3 linked regions of the Homo sapiens genome follow. The protein of the gene in region 1 binds, or shares a complex with, the protein of each later gene. Each region holds a gene or a part of one and is shown on either strand. Other genes may lie near its edges.

Region 1 (7,631 bases):
CAGTGGCTCACACCTGCAATCCCAGCACTTTGGGAGGCTGAGGTGGGTGGATTGCTTGAGCTCCGGAGTTCGAAACCAGCCTGCACAACATGGTGACACTCTGTCTCTACAAAAAATACAAAAATTAACCAGGCATGGTGGCGTGCACATGTAGTCCCAGCTACTCAGGAGGCTGAGGTGGGAGGATTGATTGACCCCAGGGAGGTCAAGGCTTCAGTGAGCCGTGAATTCGCTATTGCACTCCGGCCTGGGCAACAGAGAAAGACCCTGGCTAAAAAAAAAAAAAAAAAAAAAAAAAAAAAAAAAAAAAAAAAAAAAAAATACACGCTTTTCCAGAGGAGAATCCCAAGGTTCAGAGAAGTTAGATGACTTGCTCAAATTCTCAGCTGCTTCCACCATCCCTTAAAGGAGACCTTGGTGCTCTTGTTATGCAGATGAGGCACAGAGATGGGGAGTGACTTGACTAAGGTCACACAGCAAGTTAATGACAAAGCTGGTCCACACTGACCTACAGCCCAATTTTCCTGGCTTTCCAGTGCAAGGATTTTGTTGCCTATGTGTCTTACTCTCCTGAGCATGTGTGTGTGTTACAGTTGTATGCATGTGTGTGATTGGGTTCATATGTGAATATGAAAGAGTGTATACGTTAATGACGCATTATATGTATAAATGATTGGGCTTGTGTGACTATTTGAAGAGCACATATATGTCTGTATATGCATGATTGATCTTGTGTGTGTATGTAAGAAGGTGTGTGTGCACATGCATATGTGTGTGATTCGGCATGTGTGTACGTGTGTGATTCAGCACGTGTGTGTGTGAGTCAGCATGCATGTACATGTGTGATTCAGCATGTGTGTATAAACATAAGGCTATGTATGTGTATGTGAGAAGCTCAGTAGTATCTCCGAATCAGCATGCCCTCCTTCCTAAATTGCAATTTGCCATTGGGGAGCTTTCATATATTGCTCTAGAAGGTGACTAATTAGGCCTTTAAACTCCCCATCTCCCCCTCTCCAAGCTCCCTTAGTGCTGGGGGGCACACGGACTTATTTTATGAGCCCCCAAGGGGTCACAGCTTTCCCTGGCTGGGCAGGCAGCCAGACCACCTCCCCCACCTCAGCCAGACCTGCTGCCTCTGTGCCTCCCCCGCCCCCTGGCAGCCCCCTCCAGGCCAGCTCTAATGAGGAGCCTCTCCCACCCTCTGACCCCTCCCCCACCCTGCCAGCCTAGGACCAGAGCAAATGAGCTGCAGGCAACTTGAGCGACCAACAGCCCACCTCCCTCTTCACACTAGGAAGAAACTGAGGCCCTGAGAGGGGGAGGGACTTGCTTAGATCACACAGCAAGTGGAGAGGAAAAGCTGCAACAGTAACATTAGGTGGGCCGAGAGAGACAGAGGGGAGCAGGTAGTCTCTGGAGTTAATGAGGAGAATGAGGCATGTTCAGGACAGCATCTAAAGTTTTCATGTTGGAAGGGCTCTCAGAAACCACCCTGTCCAACCCCATATAGGTGTACAGATGGGAAAACGGAGACCCCAAGTGAGAAGGAGCTTTCCCAAGGTCATACTGCGAGTTAGGCCCTGGGTCTGCTCCCTCCCCATGTATCTGAACATCATTCCATGACTCCAAGATGCCCCATTTACTGTGTGCACCTCTCTTGCCTCCTCTATCCCCTTGCCTGAGGGCAAAGTTGCAGAAGCATGGGGACCTCAAGATTCATTTCTTTCTCTGCCGTCTGAGACCGCCTACAAACCTGTGAAGCTTGGAAAGTTCGGCCAGCCCAGCAGGTACAGATGCACAACTGAGCAATCAAGTCTCGGAATCTGGTCTCCAACTCTGCCACGAACTGGCAGGTCTTGTCTCTTCTCTAGGCTTTAGTGCCCACTCTGCACCTTGCAGGCGTTGGACCTGGTGCTTCCTAGGTGCCCTCCAGCCCTGATGTGTGGGCAGCCTAGGATCTGCTATGTGTGAGATATGTGTCAGTGTCCCCAGACACCCACCCCGGGCCAGATGCACACAGTGTCTCCCACCAGGGCAGTGCCAGGGCTTTGAAAGCCCCTCCATTCATGCAGATGCCCCTCCCTCTGAGCCGTGCCCCTGCCACCCCGCCCCCTCACCTTGCCCTTTGTCAATAAAGCTGGTGATGGTGTTGGCCAGGCCAGCCTCCAACTTCACGCTGCTGTTGCCTCCCTTTCTGTCAGCATCGGACAGCGTCCTGTACAGCGAGAGCATGTACTCGTGGGGTGTGATGGGGGGTGGGCGAAACGGCTCCTTGGGCTCTCGTGGGGGCCCGGGCTCCCTGGCCTTCTTCAGCAGGAAGGAGCTGGGGACAGATCCTGCTTTTGGGGGTGCCTTGCCTCCGGGAAGCTGTCCTTTTGGGGTCACAGTCCGGGCTGTAGCCTGCCTTGTTTGGGGAGGGTGTCCTGGCTTGGGTTCAGGGCCGCCCGGTCTGGGGGGCAGCTTTTTGGGTTCATCCTTCTTGGGCTGTGTCAGGCCTCCTGTCTGCCCGGTGCCTCCCTTTGCCCTGGCATTGGCATTGGTGGCCCCCCCACCATAGCTGTGACCCCCTGGCCTGAAGACGTTCCGGGCCAGGGGGGGCCTCTCCTTGGCCTCTGCTTTGGCCAATCCTGGCCTGGTCCCCTGGGGTCTCTGGCCCAAGTCAGGGGCACCCAACACAGTGCAGATGAATTCCAGGTCCAGCCAAGCCAGGTACCAAAGCAAGAAAGTGAGGAGTTTGGGGAGTCTCATCCTCTGGCCAGCCGCTGAATGACACCAAAGAGAACAGCGGCAGCAGCGAAGGTGCCTCTGGTTTGGCAGGAAAAACCATGAAAGGAGTGGACTTTCAAAAGCAGCGGCAGCAGCAGTAGCAGCAGAAGGAAAGGCTTTCTCCTCAGTCTGAGACTCTTGAAGTCTGCCGGGTGTGTGTTTGTATCCAGTCCCATAGTGGAAATGCTCTCGTATCCAGACGTGCACCGTCTCCAGTCAGCAGCTGAAAATAACTCGTTCTTGAAAGGAGAAAGCCGACCGCCCCCTTTCTCCTGCACAACTGACTGAGGGCTTGAAGGAGGCTTGTATAAGGCTGAGGGATTTTTCCAAGAAGGAAGAATGGCGTAATGCTGCCTGTGTGCTCCAGTTTTTTTTTCCCCCTAGTTTTGAATCCTTTCCAGTGAAAATACTTCACACACACACACACACACACACACACACACACTCACAGGCCTGCAGGTGCTCAGAAAAATCTTTTACAAACCTGAACTCAGGAATTGGAAACGGAATTCCAACCCAAACCAATTTAATTACTCTCTGATGTCATGCTGTCTAAACTCATTTAAGTGCGATATATTTATGTGAAAAAAATCACCGCTGCCCTTTCGAGGCCATGGCTCACGGGGGCTCCTGGCACAGAGCCCTGCAGCGGGACTCTAGGCTTAGGGGGCCTCCCCCTCCACAGGGCAGACTCAGGGGTCTTCACCTCCACCTCATGGAGCAGCCCACCCCACTTTCCCGAGGAGAGATGCTGAAGAATGAGCTCAAAGATCTTAAGCCCCAGAAGCATGGGGAGTGTGGGTTTGTAGTTAAGTTCTTAGAGTGTTTTTAAAGCAGTTTCAACTCCTGCATCTAGTCTGGGACCTGATTTGTTATGCGTGTGTGTGTGTGTGTGTGTGTGTGTGTGTGTGTGTTTATGTGCCTGTGTGTGTGTGTGCCTGTGTGTGTGTGTGCCTGTGTGTGTGTATTGGGAGTAGGGACAGCACAGATGGCAGCATTTACCCACATTTTCTTTTATTTTAATAAACTTGTGGTGACCCAGAGACTGAAAAATATCAGTGCCCACTACACCCCCTCCCTACCCCCAAATGCCATTGACTGAGTGCATATTCTTCAGGCTTGGGGGCACTGTCGCCCTTAAGTTCACTCCTTGGATGGCGGCAGGTCCAGGGTGTACCCCACCACCACCCCAGCAGAGACGTCCTCTGAGTTTTCTTAGACAAGACTGGCTGAGTCTGGGGCAGCAGCGGCCCCTACAGGAGGCTGGAAAAGCCATTTCCCACATGACGCTTTTTTTTTTTTTTTTTTTGAGACGGAGTCTCGCTCTGTCGAGTGCAGTGGCATGATCTCAGCTCACTGCAATCTCTGCCTCCCAGGTTCACGCCATTCCCCTGCCTCAGCCTCCCCAGTAGCTGGGACTACAGGCCCCTGCCACCACACCTGGCTGATTTTTTACGTTTGTAGTAGAGATGGGGTTTCACCATGTTAGCCAGGATGGTCTCGATCTCCTGACCTCGTGATCCGCCCGCCTCGGCCTCCCAAAGTGCTGGGATTACAGGCGTGAGCCACCGCGCCGGGCACAATTTCCCACATGATGTTTTTCTGGTAGCTCTGGAAGGTCTGAATTCCAGCTGAACTCAAGGGTTTCTTAAAGTGCCTCATTGAAGTATGGAAGATCCCTTCCTCTGGGGAACCTTCGCCGTAGAGCCCCTGGGCAACTTAACACAGGGTCAGCGGGGAAAGCTGTTCGCTTCACCTGAAATATCCTCCTCTCTCTCTCCCACAACTGGAGGAAGCACTCTACATCCTGAGAAGTTTAGCTGAAAATTTACCTCCTTCGGGAAGCCTTTCCTCGTCCCCAGACAGAGCCAGTTACCCCTTCTGTACATTTCTCTACAACAACACTTTTCACGCTGTAAGAAGGATGGCGGGGGAGAAGCAATAGTCAGATAGGCTTCCTTCTTTTTTTTTTTTTTTTTTTTTTTTTTGAGACAGAGTCTCACTCTGTCACCTAGGCTGGAGTGCAGTGGTGCGATCTTGGCTCACTGTAATCTCCACCTCCTGGGTTCAAACGATTCTCCTGCCTCAGCCTCTCGAGTAGCTGGGACTACAGGTGCACACCACCATGCCTATCTATTTTTTGTATTTTTAGTAGAGACGGAGTTTCACCATGTTGGCCAGTCTGGTCTCGAGCTCCTGACCTCAAGTGATCCACCCACCTTGGCCTCTCAAAGTGCTGGGATTGCAGGCATCTCTACCAAAAATACAAAAAATTAGCCGGGTGTGGAGGCAAAGGTTGCAGTGAGCCGAGATCGCACCACTGCACTCCAGCCTAGGTGACAGAGCTAGAGTCCATCACACACACACAAAATAAGTAAATAAATAATATTAATAAAATAAAAAAATTAAAAACAGACTTGTTCCCACTGAACCAGTCCTCTCTGGCATCCCTCCCTTCACTCCCTCCTCACCACCTCTGTCACTGCCCTGTCCTCCTCATTGCTTGCCTCGCTATGATTCTCCCCTATAACTGGCTTCTAGGCCTCCAGGCTCTCTCTGGTTCAACCCTCTACTAAAAGCTACCCATCAAACAAGTGCCAACCCACGTGCCACCTCCTCCATGAAGCCTTCTTGCATCCTCCAGAAAATGCACACTCCCCCTGAGCTGCCATCACACATTTTCTGTGCTCTTTTACATTTTTTGGCAGCTGAAAGTTTATTCAGTCTCTGCCTCTGCCCCCTATCCCAACACAGTTTGTTTCTTCCACTCTGTATTTTGTCATATTTTAAAATCATAACTTAATTCCTTATAACTATAATAATTTCTTTACATACCTGTCTCTCCCATTAGATTATGACTAGACTGTGCCATATTTATCTTTGAATTATACCCAGTGCTTGGCAGAGGGCCCAGCCCACAGCAGCTCTCAGTACGTGTTATATGAATAAATTAATCTCTAACTGGCCCTTATTGACAAAAATCATCATTTTCTACTTTGAGGTGTAGTTATTTGTGGACATAACCTGCCTTTCCCATTAGACTCTAAGTTTCTTGAAGGGAAGAATTGTCTTGCCACTTCTTAAGCATTTTGTAAGCTCAGAGAGTGAATAAATGAATGAGTTGAACAACCACAATGTCTCTGTACGTGGCTTGATAAAGAGCAAGGATTCTGGAGACAAACAGACCTGGTTTTGAAGCTTGGTTCTGCTATTTATGTATTGTGTGATCTTGGGAAGCCTCTAAACCCCTCTGAAACTCTAAACAGTGATAACGATAGTGCTTACCTCACAGGACTCTTGTTGGAGATTCAATGAAGTAAATTGCGGCCAGGCGCAGTGGCTCACGCCTGTAATCCCAGCACTTTGGGAGGCCGAGGCAGGTGGATCACGAGGTCAGGAGATCAAGACCATCCTGGCTAACATGGTGAAACCCTGTCTCTACTAAAAAAATAAATAAAATTAAATTGCATAAAGTGATCAACTATTAATGGCAATTGTTAATGATAGCTTTTTTTTTTTTTTTTTTTAGATGGAGTCTCACTCTGTCACCCAGGCTGGAGTACAGTGGCATGATCTTGGCTCACTGCAACCTCCACCCCCCGGGTTCAAGTGATTCTCCTGCCTCAGCCTCCCAAGTAGCTGGGACTACAGGTGCGTGCCACCACGCCCGGCTAATTTTTGTATTTTTAGTAGAGATGGGGTTTCACTGTGGTAGCCAGGATGGTCTCGATCTCCTGACCTTGTGATCTGCCTGCCTCGGCCTCCCAAAGTCCTGGGATTACAGGTGTAAGCCACCATACCCGGCCAATAATAGCTATTTTTTTTAAAGCACTTATTCCAGTCAACTAGACTCTGGGTTTTGTACTCCATTGCATTTATGTGTTATTTATCTTCATGACAATGCTATGAAGGTAGTGGTTTTCATTGTTGTTTTTTGAGACAGGGTCTTACCTGTTGCCCAGGTTGGAGTGCAATGGCGTGATCATGGGGCTCAGGTGATCCTCCCACCTCAGCCTCCCAAGTAGCTAGGACTACAGGTGCACATCACGATGCCCAGCTAATTTTTGTATTCTTTGTAGAGACAGGGTCTCACCATGTTGCCCAGGCTGGTCTCAAATTTCTGGGCTCAAGTGATCTGCCCGCCTTGGCTTCCCAAAGTGCTGAGATTACAGGTGTGAATCACCACATGTGGCCGAAAGTAACTTTTTTTATTTTTTTGAGATGGAGCCTCGCTCTCTCACCCAGTCTGGAGTGCAGTGGCGCAATCTCAGCTCACTGCAACCCCCGCCTCCTGGGTTCAAGGGGTTTTCCTGCTTCAGCCTCCTGAGTAGCTGGGATTACAGATGTGTACCACCACGCCCAGCTAATTTTTGTATTTTTAGTAGAGATGGGGTTTCACCATGTTGGCCAGGCTGGTCCCAACTCCTGACCTCAGGTGATCCACAAAAAAGCATTTTGTAAGCTCAGAGAGTGAATAAATGAACGAGTTGAACAACCACAATGTCTCTGTATGTGGCTTGGCCTCCCCTAGTGCTGGGATTACAGGCATCAGCCGCCGTGCCCAGCCCGAAGGTAACTCTTGATACCCGTCTTTTTTTTTTTTTTTTTTTGAGACAGAGTCTTGCTCTGTCACTTAGGCTAGAGTGAAGAGTGCAGTGGCTCAATCTCAGCTCATTACAACCTCTGCCTCCCAGTTTAAGTGATTCTCCTGCCTCAGCCTCCCAAGTAGCTGGGACTACCGATGCGCACCAAGACGCCCGGCTAATTTTTTGTATTTTTGTGGAGACGGGGGTTTCACCATGTTGGCCAGGCTGGTCTCGAACTCCTGACCTCAAGTGATCTGCCCACCTCGGCCTCCCAAA
Region 2 (7,901 bases), on another chromosome or scaffold:
CCTTCTGCTACAGAGATGATGGGAGCGAAGAGGGCTAAATAGAAAGTGCGATTGGGTCAGCATTTTCAGCTGCCTTGTGGGCTTCTATATAATGACTAATTTGTAGCATACACCCAGAAATATCCAGGCTTCATGAATTTATAACGACAACGCACACTTTGCCTGTTATAGGCGGTAAAGTAAGCCTCCTGTCAAAATGCCAAGACAATGCGGAGCAGAAACAATCTCAAGGATGTAGCCAAGAAGGCCATGAAGTGTATGAGTAAGCAAGTAACTCCCATATTGGATCTCTATTCAGGAATTGCAGAGGTTTGCTTAAAAAAAATAAAATAAAATAAAGCAACTAAAGGTACTCTTTTCATACTCTTTTCATTCCCCAAGGGCAGAATTAAAACTCTGCAGCTACAGATTTCTCTATTTTTGGGTCAGATTATCTGTGATCAGTGTGACAGTATTTTCACACCAGTTACTGAACATGCTAAAGCATTTGTGGGTCTAGAGCTTTCATTTCATCATTTTTGAATGAATCAGACATAAAGACCTCACCATTCAAGACAGTTTCTTTAACACCAGGACTACACGTGTGAATCTGCAGCACAATCACCAGTTTATAATAAAAGAAATGAGGTATTCTGAAGCTGAATTAAGTGAAATGTGGAGCCATATGGGGTGCTGAGGCAGATGATAAGGATCCAGGCATAAAACATATAGTAGTCCATCTGCAAAGAGCACTGGCACTCTTGCTGGGTTCCCTTATCTGAGAAACAACCCGGGCATTTAAATAGCACCACTCTTCAAAGAAATCTCTCAAAAGGAGCGTTCTTTTCTTTAACAGGATTAATCGCTTCACTCCAACAAGTTGTCCATAGAAATCGCTTACCACATTGTTGGGCTGAATCTAATGGTGACTTAAATGAGGACACATGAAGATACTGGGAGCTTCACATTCCAAATTCTTGAACGAAGACACCCTACTTTTCTAAACCTTTAAGCCAACTTAGTATGCCTTTCACGGGCTAGCAAAGAAACCTTCAGGGACCACATTCCAATTCTGTCACAGGATCCTATGGCAACTATGGGAAACAATATCCAAGCAGCCAAGGGGGACACAATCCCACCTAGCACAATTTCCATTTCATGAAACTTACATTTTGGTATTATGGACACATATTTTTCGCACAAACACTCCTGAATATATCTTTTAACATGTCAAGAAAAATTTTCCACGTAACTACATGCAGATTGACACTATTTTCTAAGGTTCTTAGGTTACTAATTGAAAGCCGTAATCATCCTAAAACTTTCTATTACACTTTTTTATTAAGCCGTCTTTTCCCTAATTGTCGGTGTTAAAAAGCAGCTATTACATCATAATGCAAAGCTACGCAAAGTAAATTAAGTCTCCTCAGATGTCACATTTTCCCCCCCATTACTTAAAAGACCTCCCTGATTTTTAGCATGGCGGGTATGGTTTAATAAGTAAAAATTACTCCGCACAGTTGGGTGGCATCGAAGTTCAGGATTCTCCAGACCAGAACGTTGTGAAGTGTCTCATATATACAGGACAAAAAAGGTCTGGAAGGAAAAGAAACTTATCTAATGCTGTTTGTTCTCAAGACTAAAGGAAAATGACCCTTTCAACCTTAGCATTAAAAAAAATTCTTTGTCTAGGCAAATTCCTAGAAAAAAATAGTGTGAAGAGCGTCCTGGATTTTCATGAAACGATTTTTTAAAAAGAAAAATAGGTATCACATGGTAGAAGGCTCATTTGCAGGCTTACTTCCCTTGGAACATACGCCTCAAGGCTGGGGAAGCGCCGACCTCCAGAAGGCAGCATGGTTATCTGTCAACCCCTCACGGAGCCCGAAGACACCCGGCTAGTCACAAAACACGAGCTTTTCCCGGGAGGCTGATCGCTGAACAAACGCAGCTTTTGCCAAAACGAAAGAAATCCCTGCTCAAAAAAGTTGACGTTACTTCGAGATTAACTCCCAGGTTTGCAAAATCTGGTAAAAATCTTTCCATCTGGTGTACTTCCTTCGCCTCGCCGCCACCCCCAACTCCAGAAAAGCAGCACAAGGCTCCTTGTCTCCCTCCGAGGCGGCTGCGACGGCGGAAACCTGATCCGAGCCTGACTTTCAGTAAACACCAGCGCAGAGAGCAATAAAGCATCCGGAACATTTGTCTCGGGCGCGCGGCCCCCGCCCGCTAAATGTTTGATAAGCGGCTGTCGGAGGGGAGATTTGTCAGCGGTCCGAGCCGAAGGCGGGGAGGGTGGAGAGAAGGCTCGTCTCTGCGCCCGGCGGCCGCCCGGTGGGTGGCTGCGTTACTGTGGCCCGGAGCCCGACAGAGGTGCGTGTCAGGGGCTCGGGAGGCCTTTCCCGTTGCGCCACGCCGCCCTTCCGCCCCGGCGAGCGCCTTCGAGACCTGGGGCTATTTGGGAACAAAGCCCTAGGCCCCGGGGCTGGCTCCCCTCGCGCGCTCCCGTCCTACCTGCGTGGAGCAGCCCGAGGCTGAACAGCAGCAGCAGCAGCAGCTCCAGCGGCGGGGGGCAGAGCCCGGGGCTGCGGCGCTGCTCAACCTCGGCGGCGGCAGCGGCGGCGCTGGAAGGTGCTGCTCTCAAGCCCATGCCCGTCCATGCAGGTCTCGTGGGCTCCGGCGAGGGCGGCGGCGCGGGCGCCGTGGCGGGTCTGGGCCCGTGGCTGCGGCATGGGCCGGGGGGCGCGCTTCGCTTCCTCTTCTTCCTTCTTCAGGCCCGTGTAGCAGATGGGGCGCCACCACCGCCGCAGCAAGCAGCGCGCAGCCGGCGCAGCCAGTCCGCGGCGGCAGCAGCGGGGCGCAGGGGCATCGTGGCGGCCGGAGGCGGCAGGCAGGGAAAGGGGCGGAAGAGAAGACACAAAGACCGTGAGCGACTGCTGAGACGAGTCCCGAGCGCGCCGGCACCCCGGCCCCAGCCAGCGTGGGCTCGGCGGGCGTGGACCTCCAAGAGGCTGGCCCAGCCCTAGCGACCACCCACCGGCGGCCCGGATATCTCTGCGCGGCAGCCCCCGCGGTCGATCAATCTCAGTCCCGCACTGCCGTCCCGCCCCGCCCTGTGCCCGCCAATCCACGACGCCATAATCCCCCGCCGTGTCCCTCCCTTCCTCCCCATTGGTTGTGACCGCACGTCAGCCCGACTCAGCCTGCCAATCGCAGGACCCAGAGGGCCCTCTCCCCCGCCCGCTCAGTGTAATTCGAGTTCCCTGTCCATCGACTCCAAGTCCTCTCTCCTGCGCCGCATGCTGCCTCGCGCTCCCTTTCCTTCCCCCTCTACCCCCTTCCGCGATTTACTGTTTCCTCGCGCCCAACAGAAATGGGCGACCGCAAGTCTTACTCTCGCCGGCGTTACAAAGGTACCGGCCTTTGACCTCTCCTTGAATTAATGTGATCCGATTCATCTTCCCTCCAAGTTTTTTTTTTAATTTAATTACCCCTCCCTGCCCTGGCCCTGCCAGCTTCAGCTCCACCTCCTTGGAGGAAGCAGGCGCTTTTACAGAGCGCCGCGCGGCAGGTCCCCTTTCAGCCAATCACATCTGCGGAACCGCGTTCCGAGTCGTTTGAGGGTGTCTGGTAAAGCAAGCTCGGGGCGGTGTTGGAAATCTGAATGTCACCCGCGGTCCGGAGCAGATAGGATGGGCTGGGAAGGTACCCGCGAACTGCCGCCGGAATTCGCTGGCAGCTGTGCGAGGCTCAGGTGTTCTAGTTTGACATTTCCCTTCCTGAAAGCGGCAAGGAGAGGTCTAAGAGTGGGCAAACTTCAACGTTCGGTTACAGTGTAATTAATGAGAGTGGTGGGTTTTTATGCAGTGTAATTATGCCACGATTTGTTGTTGCTCAGTGGCTTTTTCACAAATTTCTACAGATTATTTAAATTTTCCACAAATTTCTACGGATTAATTCAATGGCAGCTCACTTTCTCCTTTTATGATCGGATGGGTCCGAAAGTGAGGAAAAAGACAATTGTCTACAAAGAAAGAGGCTGCCAAGTGGAGACAGAAAAGCAGTTATGAGACTGATGATAGATTCCAATTTGTTATCGGTAGGTGTGAAGTGGTATCTAATCTCAAGAATGACCTCAAGGCTGAGAGACACTTGATACCGCCCTCGCCTTTGCCTTTCCCCAAACAGCACAGGGTTGCCATTTAAAATCCACTAACATCCAAATCGTAGTTGGCAACTGTACCCGCTATGTTACTCAGAATCTCTAATTAGGAATTTCTTATCAACCACGGACATGCTGATATTCCACACATGTTTAAATGAGCTAATCAATGGACTAGGATAATTGAGGGGCAAACCTTCAGTCTCACCAGCTCACTTATTAGACACATTTTGAATTGCCCAAACCACTAGGTCCCTAATGAAGGATGCCTATCTGTTTTTACTGTAACTTTTCATTACTTACTTGTTACATACTATGATGACTTAAGGGGTAAACACACCTTTCACTATCCACAATATAATCCAAGCCTGTGTATATCCATAATACGCTTAATAATAGCTTCACAGTTGCCTGGAGAAATGACTTTTGGGGAGGAAGTTATATGACATTTTTAGATAATGCTGCGGACTAAGTATTATTAGAGCAAAAATTTACTATCTTGCAATTACTTCATATAATTAGATACAGTTCATGACATACTAAGAAGCATCTTAAAAAAGTAATCAAACATAATACTGATTTTCAAAGTATTTGGCTAACAAAGACTACATTTTTTTCTCTTAACCCAAGATTTAATTCGACCCCTATAAAAGCAGCATCTCACTTTATTGATCATACTTCAAAGCATATACTCAATAGTTAAGGATCAATAATTTCTGTTTGGTTTGGGTCTTTCCACTCGTGACTTTCTATGATTTTTTACTCCCCTCCCCCTATATCCTGTTCCATAAGTACACGGGTGCTCTAGATTTTCCTATCAATAGAGGGCGTCCTCGAGTCATTGCAAATCCTGGTGTCGTTAAACGGAACTGTTCTTCAGAGGAAAAACTTCATCTCTATAAGGTGCTTTATTGCTCCTCTGTTGTAAAATTTGACAAGCTCGAGATTTATAAGCCTAACAATTCACTTTTTATTGCTGCATAAGTGTTCAGCCGCTAGAGGAAAATGCTAATTTTCACAAGTAAACCGCAAGGTGGTTCCTATTTTCAAGACATAGGTCAGTTGACACACTCGCGGGTAAATTCGTACTGTTCACAAGATCAGGAATTGGCTTGGAAAGCAAGAGCGTAGTGAATAGTCGCTTATACCGCAGCCACTCCTCAAGCCCGTGAGCTGCAAGTTACAAACGACTTTATATTGTACAAAGAAAAATCGGGGAGGGAGCTAGAACACAAACAAAAAAATCGGTGACTTATAAAAGTTTTATGTTTTAATCAGAAAAAAAATCATGAAGTGGCTGATGACTTGTGTAATTCACACATCCACCCTGTTTCTTGCCACTGGTACTCTTTCTCCCTTTCTCTTTGTTTTCAGAAAGGAAGGAGGAGACCTGAACAGTACATCCGGAGAATCCAGCAAAGCATACTACGGCATGAACGTGCAAGTGGACAGAATTAAAACACATGCCAGAAACACTAATGGATTCTAAACAAGATGCAGTTTCATTTCCTGAGCCTATACGTGATGTTTTTAACTGTTCTCCAGTTAATATGTCTCCATTTCCAGAAATCTAACAGGAGAATCTCTGACTGCTTAACAGATCACCTAAGCTTGCGATTTGTGCAATCCTTTCTAGAGTAAGGGCTCCCCGGCTGCTCCCCGGCCACTGTGTACCCAAAGCAGCGGCTGAAATAGCCCGGAGTCCAACAGCTCAGCGTCAAGCAGCTCGTGGTTTGTACTTACATCATTTTTTTTTTCAGAGCAAGAGTGAAAGTTTATTAAAAAGCGTTAGAACAGTAAGGAAAGGAAAGGAGAGAAAATAAGGAAAGTACAACTTGGAAGAGGGCCAAGCGGGCGACTTGAGAAATCAAGTGCCTGTACTTACATCATTCTTAACCCTTTCGCTCCTGGAGGGGGCTCAGCGGGATCAGGGGGCCCCTGAACTTCGGAACACGCAGGACCTGGGTGTGAGAGAAGAGTCCCAAAGCTTGGCGTGAGCAATGCACTCGCGGAGGGAGAGAGCCCGGGGCTTGCGGGGGGCTCATCACCCGCTCGTAGACAACGGGCCCCCGCAATCCCTGCGGGCTCCGCCGCTGCTCTCACCGCTCAAAACGGCAGGTGCAAAAAGCATTTGGGAGCCGCTTGCCAGCGCGCGGAGGTAATGCGCTTCCTGTCCATTTATCTCAGGAAACCAGTGCAGCCTTCCCTTCGAAACAAAATTAACCTCTCATTAGCCAGCCACTCGCTCCCAAGAAGGCCTTAAAAGCTTTACCAGCTCGCTAATGTATTTAGGCTTTTCTTCCAGGCAAACGCAGCCGCCGGTCTTGACTGCCATCGCCCAAGGGGTTCCTCTGGGCTCTCCCGCGAGCCAACAGCCGACCTCTCTCCAGCCTAGTCTGGGAAACTCCAGCCAACCCAGGATCCCATTTTGTAGTCCCGGGCAGACCCGAAACCCCTGAAAGAACTCCACTCCAGAAGACGCCAGAACAAGTTCCCACGAATTTCATGGGCGCCCTTCACATGAAAACCTCAGCTCCCCTATCCTCAAGGAACGGGGAAGGGCGCCGGGGAGGGACTTCGGTGGCCAGCTGTCCCTGGGTCGTGGGCGCTGTTTGCTCTGCGGAGCGCCAGCCCTGCACACAGCGGGTGCGGGAAGCGTTGATGGGAGGCTGGAGGGCGGGGTGAGCGTAAACTAGGATCTAGCCGGTTCCAGGCGTGGAGAATCAAATGTGGTCCTAGATCTGTAAGTTGCGAAAAGGGGCTTTTGGGAGCGTCAGAGCTTTCTCACTCCGGTCCCCCGCCGCCTTGAGGCTGGCAGATTTATACCCCACAGGTGGATGGAGACCTAAACAAAACAGTCCCGGCCGCTGCCTGCCGCTCGCCCCCCACGTCCCCCGGGCCCACCGCAAACTTCAACAAAATAAACAACTCACCACAGGCATTCCCTTGTCTGCAGCGCGACGCTTGCCAGCTGGGAAAATAAGCCGCAAGCCACGCGGCCGAGGCGCGGAGGGAAGGCAGCGCGGCGCCCGCCCCTCTCCCCCAGGTGGGGGGCAGCGCGACTCGGGGCGGGAGGGAGGCTCCGCCTCGGGGGCCGCTCTCCCAGTTCTCCGACTCCAGAATGAGCTCTGGGAGAGGAGCTGCGCCCTTCCAGCTAGCCCGATTTCTCCGCCATCTAGGGGAGAGGGCGGGGAGCCAAATCCCTCAGCCCCCCGCACCCCAGCAGCTTCCTCCAGGCAGCTTTCTCCCCAGTCAGCCTCAAATAGAGGTGAACAGAGACCCTCCTCTCCCCCCGGCAACCCCTATATCGCCACACTGCCCCCTGCCGGCGCTATCCGGCTCATTCCGGCACTGCGGACGGCTGGGGGCGTGGGGGCGTAGGGGCGCCGCAGACCCCCGCGTCCAGGTCCTGGATCAGTTCTCTCTTCGCCTTCCCCCCACCACACTCAATCTTGCACAAAGACGCCTTTCACGCCGCCAGCGCCACCCTCCGCGCCGCCCTCCGGGCCGGCGGCGCTGCCTTCGCCCACCCGCGGCACCAGCCGATTCCTGGTGGGCGATTGTGCCACTCGTCGCCAGGCAGGGCGGCAGCGGACGCGTGCGGGCTGTTCCCACTCCGCGCCCCGGCCAAGGCGCCAGATGCGCTGCCCCCCGCCACGTTCTCTAGCTGCCCGCCGGCAGCCGCAGAATGCACACCTTTCTCTCCGTAAATGATCCTTAAGGGTCTTCCAAGTGTTTCTAAAATGGGTACAGTGGCGGG
Region 3 (7,102 bases), on another chromosome or scaffold:
CCACCTTTTCCCTAGTTCTTGCTTCCTTGTACTTGACTTTCCTTCTGCTGATGTCTTCCTGGTTTCTATTTAATTAATGATGCAGACTGTTGTTGCAGAATTCATTAGGCTACCATTGCTGATTATCTCATATGTATAGTGCATCAGTAGCCCATTGGTCTCACCAACCGTTTGCCATCTGAGTTCTGTTGTAGACATTCTATCTTAAGGTTGCGGCAGAGGGCATTTATTTGCTGTAGAAAAAGGAAGCCAATAAATTATTGGGAAAATATGAAAAATTACTTAGCCAGGAATAAAAATCTAGTAAAATCATTGATGCCAAAAATTGCTGTTGATGACAAGGACCTGTAAATGTGCCTGTGTATGGTCATGTGTCTCTTGTAACTGTTTGTCTCTTTGTATGTATATGTTTTCATTTTTTCCTGAGATGTTATACTTAAACATGTAAGCTATTAAATATTTTGTGTGTGTTTGTTTTGAAATATAACCTATACCCCCAGTCCACCCCAGGGCTCGTAGTTTATTCTTTGTAAATACACGGGACTTGTGGGTGGCGAGAGATTGACATGTTCAGAACTGACAGAAGGCCATGTGCCAAGTAAAGTGATGATGGTGAGGCCTGCAGGACCCAGATCCTGTTGGGCCCTGGGAGCACACAGTGGAGGTTGGATTTTATTCTGAGTGCATTGTGGAGCCATTGATTGGTTTTATATAGGAGTGACAGATTTGTGTTTATAAAATGTCTCTGGCTGCTCTGTGGAAAATGGATTGCAGGGACCAAGAGCAGAAGCAGAGGGAACAGTTGGAGACTTCTTACCTTAGTAGAGGCATGATGTGATGGGCCTTGGTGACAACAGCGGAGTTGGAGAAAAATGAAAACAATTGACATACATTTTGGAGGTTGAGCCAAAAGACTTTGGTAAGACCAGGTTTGAGGCAAATCAAGAGTTCATTTAAGACAAGTCAGTCAGGAGATGTCTAAGCAGGTCATGGCTAGAGGGGGTACATCCAGGAACCATCAACAGAGTGGGCGCTGTCCCCTAGGGAGAGCACAGAGAGGCTCTTTCCTGTTACTTTTCTTTGTATTCAATATCTGCTTGGTGAAATCTTGCAAGTTTTTAAGATGTAGCTTAGATTTCATTACTTTTGACACCTAAGATCAGTTTGAGTTTGACACCTAGGATGAGCCTTTTCCTTTGTTTACATGTAAACACCTCCGTATTTTGTCACTTTTTTTTTTTTTTTTTTTTGAGATGGATTTTCGCTCTTGTCGCCCAGGCTGAAGTGCAATGGCTTGATCTCTGTTCACTGCAACCTCCACCTCCCAGGTCAAGTGATTGTCCTGCCTCAGCCACCTGAATACTGGGATTACAGGCGCCTTGCCACCACGCCCAGCTAATTTTTTAATATTTTTAGTAGAGACGGGGTTTCACCATGTTGACCAGGCTGGTCTTGAACTCCTGACCTCAGGTGATGTGCCCACTTTGGCCTCCCAAAGTGCTGGGATTACAGGCGTGAGCCACCGCGCCTGGCCTTTGTATTTTGTCACTTTTCACATTGTATTTATTTGCTTTTGTGCTTATTCCCCCTCTGCTTTCCACCAAGTTTCTCAAGGCCACATATGTGGTTTTGATGCCACATCTTTGCGTTTCTAGCATTTAATACCTTGCCTGCACATAATAGACCCCTACTAAGTATTCTGTTGAATATTTGGCAATAACATAAGCTCCAGATACAACTACTGTAATTGAGTTTTTTGTCTCATGAATTCAAATAGTATTCTAGGAAGTTTCATATAACTTTGAGTTTTTTCATGTATCAGTGATCTTTTAGTGTTCTGATCTTTGTTATTAGTAACATCTTCATTTGTATACTATTTTACATGTAGTTAAGCACTTTAGTAAATATTCATTTGATCTACCTATAACCTCTTGATTTGAATTAGGCAGGAATTATTATCCCCATTTTCTATAGATAGCTGAGGTTCAGAGAGTAACTTATCTGTGCCCGTAACTGCGACTTGAACCCTTCACTTCTTGCTGTTATCTCAAGTGATATTTCTGCCACACTAAACTGCTTTTTCTGTGTCACTAGATTTTTGAAAAATCAGTTGCTGTGATATATTATATACTGTTTGTTTTCCAGAGCTGAATTGATACGTGTCTTCTGTTAATGTAATAGGATTTTAAAGCTGGTCAGGTTCCCTCACCTGTCCTCTAGTCCTGTAGCCTTATAGAGTAAATGAAGCCTGGAAAGGTGACATGGCTTGCCCAAGACCATCCAGCTAGGTAAAGCGGGGTAGGCCCATGGCAAAACAGAATCCCAGTCTCCTCATTTCCTGCTCAGTGGATTTCTTCCCTTCCTGTACCTCCTGCTTCCCCCACCCCATCTTTTACAGTTGATGTTTCTAACATAAAGGAGGTCTTTCCGCTTTGTAGCAATCAGATCCAACGGAAGCCTTGACATTATATTACGGAATTTATTTCTGAAAGGAGAGTGGTGTGGGGGGCGCGGGGATGAGTAATATATGTATGTACACAAACTTCCAGCTTTTTTTTTTTTTTTTTAAGTGTTTTCTCTCCTGGCCGGGCACGGTGGCTCATGCCTGTAATCCCAGCACTTTGGGAGACTGAGGCAAGTGGATCACTTGAGGTCAGGAGTTTGAGACCAGCCTGGCCAACATGGTGAAACCCTGTCTCTACCAACAAAATACAAAAAAATTAGCTAGGCGTTGTGTGGGGTGCCTGTAATCCCAGCTACTCGGGAGTCTGAGGCAGGAGAATTGCTTGAACCTGGGAGGCGGAGGTTGCAGTGAGTCGAGATTGCACCAGTGCACTCCAGCTTGGGTGACAGAGTGAGACTCTATCTCAAATAAAAATGTTCTCTATACTCATTCAGTAGCAAATTCTTTTACTAAATATTCGGTATAAGAAAGTGAAGGTTATTGGCCAGGCATAGTGGCTCACGGCTATATTCCCAGCACTTCGGGAGGCTGAGGCGGGAGGATCGCTTGAGCCCAGGAGTTCAAGACCAACCTGAGCAGTATAGGGAGACCTTGTCCCTACAAAGAATTTAAAAATTAGCCGGGCATGGTGGCATGTGCCCTTGGTCCCAGCTACTCCAGAGGCTGAGGTGGGAGGATCACTTGAGCCTGGGAGGTTGAGGCTGCAGTGAGCTCTGATCACATCACTGTACTCCAGCCTGGGCAATAGCGTGAGACCATGTCTCAAAAAAAAAAAAAAAAAAAGTGAAAATTATTGAAACTGAAGGCATGTAATCATCAAAACACTATTTAGCAGCACTTTTTCTGTTACCTGTGTGTGCATATGTGATATTTTTTGTCTTTTCAGTAGTTTATCTCATCAGTATGGTAAATGTAAAATCAAGTCTGTGTTGTGTCTTGAACCACTTATTTAACATTCATAATGAAATACATATACACTTGTCTGTTTGGTTCCACCTTTCATTCCCTTGAGAGTAACCCACAAAGAATGGCCTAGCTGAGTCAGAGAGAGGAAGTAATTACTAGAACAGTTTTTTTAGTTCCGTTCTGCTTCCAGCCTGAAAGATTTAGTACCAAATATGACAGTATCTGTCACTGCAGGCTGCTAGACTCTAGTGTAAGAACATAGTTCTATTTCTGTGAGCTAACTGCTGCCCTTCTATAACCTTCAGTTTCTGCCAGCATCGTCTGCATTCAAACCAATGACCTCGAGGTGAAAATCTCCAGATAACATGATTGGTCCCCATGCTCTCATGATTTCCTTACTTAAGCAATTAAAGGCCAAAGCAAGATGCTTAGTAACTCCTTTTCCACATAGAGGCACAAATAAAGGAAAGCTGGTCACAAGTTTTGAACCAAAGAGTTAAAAGAAGAATCATAACTTGTCTCTATTTAATGATTGGAAACTCTCACAGACTTCTGTGAAGTCTCTCCCCCTTTTGTACCTTTCTTACAAGTGATGACTATATACTTTTACCTGGCAGGGGAGAGACCACGGTCACGAAGGTGGTTTTCCCAGGGCGAGGCTTATTCATTGCACTCCAGATGTGCTGACCCCTGCGATTTCCCCAAATGTGGGAAACTCAACTGCATAATTGTGGTGGTGGGGGACTGCGTTCATGCTTTTCCCTGGTTAAATTAAAAAATTTTTAAGTTATTTTAAAAATATAAAAAACAAGATTTGACTGTATTCTGCCTTGCGCCACTCTTGTTTGTCTTTCACTAGTGCAAAAATTGTGATATAGCTGTCTTCATGTACCCCGCAATACCTGGTGCAGTAATTCTGTGCATAATAATGTATGTCTGTTTGTTGTATGAATGAAATTTATATTTCTAAAGAAACATGCTAGCTACAATTATTGTGATAAGAAAGCTTAACAACTTTTTCTCATTGAAAATTGTCACGAAACAATGAGCTTTTCAGAAATGATTTACTTACAAATTCCATATTTGAATGCAGGACAGAATCTGGATAGTATGCTTCATGGCACTGGGATGAAATCAGACTCCGACCAGAAAAAGTCAGAAAATGGAGTAACCTTAGCACCAGAGGATACCTTGCCTTTTTTAAAGTGCTATTGCTCAGGGCACTGTCCAGATGATGCTATTAATAACACATGCATGTAAGTATTTTATGCAGCCCTTCTTAAGAGTTAGGAGAATAGAGTTGCATTTAGTGCTATTTTAAGAATTATTAAACTTGTCTGCGGTTTTTTTTTCATTCATATATAGTATCTTTCCAGAAAGCCAAAAAGCCTTTTGTTTTGTATATTAGAACATTATTCCATTAAATGATTGATAGGTGAGTTACTATATTAGAATTATGTTATAATGCAGCTTTTAAAATAAGATCAAAGGGATCTAGTATTTAACATCTGAGTTTTTAATGATCTTTTAATCTTAAATTTATTGATGCTCATTTTAGAAAACTTAGAGGTTACCAAAAAAGAAATCAGAAAACTCACTGACAACCTCCTACTTCTTTTTAATTTAAAAAAAAATTTTTTTTTTAACTATAGACAGGATCTTGCTATGTTGCCCAGGCTGGTCTCAAACTCCTGGGCTCAAGCAGTCCTTCCACCTCAGCCTCCCAAAGTGCTGGGATTACTAGGGTGAGCTGCCACACCTGGCCTCCTACTTCTTAATTAGTTGAAATATTTTGCAGATATATATAAATCATATTGTGTTAATTAATTTTATGCTTTTTTCTTACCTGTGAATTTACCAATCCAAATCTGATTTATAAAATGATTTTAATTTTTCTAGTGTATTTCGTGTTAGCTGCACAACATGTTTATATATGATCATGTAATTCTAGTCCATATTTGTTGGAAACATTGACATATTGACTTAATAAGACCAAAAAAAATTGCCTGAACAACTCAACCTCATCAGTCAATTAATTGTCTCCTTGTTATAGAGGCAATAATGAATGTCATGTTTTATACTTTTAATAATTGTATGTTCCCTGAATGGACCAGATAGAAAGCATGAAACTTTACACGTAAACTCTTGAACCTGCATGACGGTCATCGTGTCTTAGGTTTGCTGCTTGTCCCCTGGTGGTGGTGGGCTCTGCGTGGCTGACTGTGACTAGTTGTTCATTTTTACCTTGGTGAGAGTTTGCCAGCAGGGAACTGCTCTCTGCTATGTCACCAAATAATGTTTTGCTAAACTTCTTGTCTGTAGTACCTGCCTGATGTAATGGGCTGTCTGTTAGTAGCTTAGTAACCCAGAGTAAAACTGAATCATCCATTTTAACAGAATTCTGCCCCACACTTAACATTTTCTCCTAACAGAAAACCAAGAATTCTGCAAAATTCTTCTAAGTAGAAGCAGCACAATTCCTGATATTAACAATAAATAGGAGTACAGAAAAAGCTTTTAGAAATTTCTCCCATACCTGTTAAAGTCTATATGAATATATTAAGGGGAAACTCCAGGATGCTAACACTAAAATAAGAATTTCATTATATATGTATGTAAATTTATTGAAAATTTATTCAAAAGTCCTCTCCCTGTTTTCCCATCATATTCAGTAAAAGGTGCCTTTTAGTCCCCTTTTTTTTGGTCATTAAGCCTATTTGTATGTTTCAGAGAAAAGTTTGTTTTTATCTATTATCATATACAATATGGAAGTACTGAAAAAATGGGTAAAAAGAGACAAAGTTATTTTAAAGTATGTTTTCAAAACATGACATAAAATTTTATAAATCAGCTTTCTGTGATCACATGACTGATTAGCAAAGAGAAGTCACATAACTCCTATGTGGAGGACTTGTTTAATTGAAATCCTTTTCTTCTTGACAAAGGGTTGTCACTGGCCTTTTAGATCTTGGCTCAGACATAACTTTCATTTGTCTTAAAACCTCTGGCGTTGCCAATAAATCACGTGTGAATGCAATTCTAAGTCACAAAACAAAGTATTAAAGGCCATCTGTACCTGTTCACATTCAGACTCAAATTTCGTTAGTACTTTCTATGTGAATTTATGTTTTGTTTTGTTTTGTTTTTTTCTGTTTTAGAACTAATGGACATTGCTTTGCCATCATAGAAGAAGATGACCAGGGAGAAACCACATTAGCTTCAGGGTGTATGAAATATGAAGGATCTGATTTTCAGTGCAAAGTAAGATATAATTTGGGACCCATGAGACAAAGAAGGGAGGGGCCATATGAAAGCATCGATTTCCCCCAGGAGAAACATGCCTGGTGTACACATCGCTGTATGTTCACATCAGTAAATATATTGGAGGAATACCTACTGTCTAGATTCTGTCCTGTATTCATATGTAGAATTTATAACTAAATCATTTCTGAAAAGCTAATTGTTTGATTACAATTTCCTTTTTTATTTCCATAGACAGCACCTGGCTCTGTTGCCCAGGCTGGAGTGCAGTGCTGCGATCTCCGCTCACTGCAACCTCAAGCCAGCCTCCTGCCTCAGCCTTCTGAATAGCTGAGACTACAGGTGCATGCCACTATACCTGGCTAATTTTTGTATTTTTTGTAGAGACAAGGTTTTACCATGTTGCCCAGGCTGGTCTCAAACTCCTGGGCTCAAGCAGTCTGCCCGCATCGGCCCGCAAAGTGCTGGGAT

Evidence for each region.
Region 2: the proteins of GDF5 (region 1) and RGMB are in contact, whole or in part, in a crystal structure (PDB 6Z3J), measured with the Homo sapiens proteins. Residues at the interface, in NP_000548.2 of Homo sapiens: Leu396, Arg399, Phe435, Pro436, Leu437, Arg438, Ser439, Asn445, Val448, Ile449, Leu452, Ser455, Met456; in NP_001353437.1 of Homo sapiens: Gln57, Thr60, Phe63, Val64, Thr67, Ser68, Leu70, Asn71, Tyr88, Leu103, Val104, Ser107, Ala108, Leu110, Gly111, Ile112, Asp114, Leu115, Gln118.
Region 3: the proteins of GDF5 (region 1) and BMPR1A are in contact, whole or in part, in a crystal structure (PDB 3QB4), measured with the Homo sapiens proteins. Residues at the interface, in NP_000548.2 of Homo sapiens: Arg399, Phe435, Pro436, Leu437, Ser439, His440, Glu442, Pro443, Asn445, Val448, Ile449, Leu452, Ser455, Met456, Pro458; in NP_001393490.1 of Homo sapiens: Gly65, His66, Cys67, Pro68, Ile77, Thr78, Phe83, Ile85, Glu87, Cys100, Met101, Lys102, Glu104, Gly105, Phe108, Gln109, Asp112, Ser113, Lys115, Ala116, Gln117, Arg120, Ile122.

Annotation. Positions count from the first base shown.
Region 1 is NC_000020.11:35,435,178-35,442,808, forward strand, and holds the start of GDF5 (growth/differentiation factor 5 preproprotein), read right to left. Parts: upstream 3,052-7,631; 5' UTR 2,752-3,051; coding exon 2,121-2,751; intron 1-2,120. UniProt on the Homo sapiens protein: Growth factor involved in bone and cartilage formation. During cartilage development regulates differentiation of chondrogenic tissue through two pathways.
Region 2 is NC_000005.10:98,768,799-98,776,699, reverse strand, and holds the start of RGMB (repulsive guidance molecule B isoform 1 precursor), read right to left. Parts: upstream 3,038-7,901; 5' UTR 2,748-3,037; coding exon of another isoform or gene 2,630-2,747; coding exon 2,494-2,629; exon of another isoform or gene 1,511-2,493; coding exon of another isoform or gene 1,498-1,510; intron 1-1,497. UniProt on the Homo sapiens protein: Member of the repulsive guidance molecule (RGM) family that contributes to the patterning of the developing nervous system. Acts as a bone morphogenetic protein (BMP) coreceptor that potentiates BMP signaling. Promotes neuronal adhesion.
Region 3 is NC_000010.11:86,885,599-86,892,700, forward strand, and holds part of BMPR1A (bone morphogenetic protein receptor type-1A isoform 3 precursor), read left to right. Parts: intron 1-4,463; coding exon 4,464-4,626; intron 4,627-6,528; coding exon 6,529-6,631; intron 6,632-7,102. UniProt on the Homo sapiens protein: On ligand binding, forms a receptor complex consisting of two type II and two type I transmembrane serine/threonine kinases.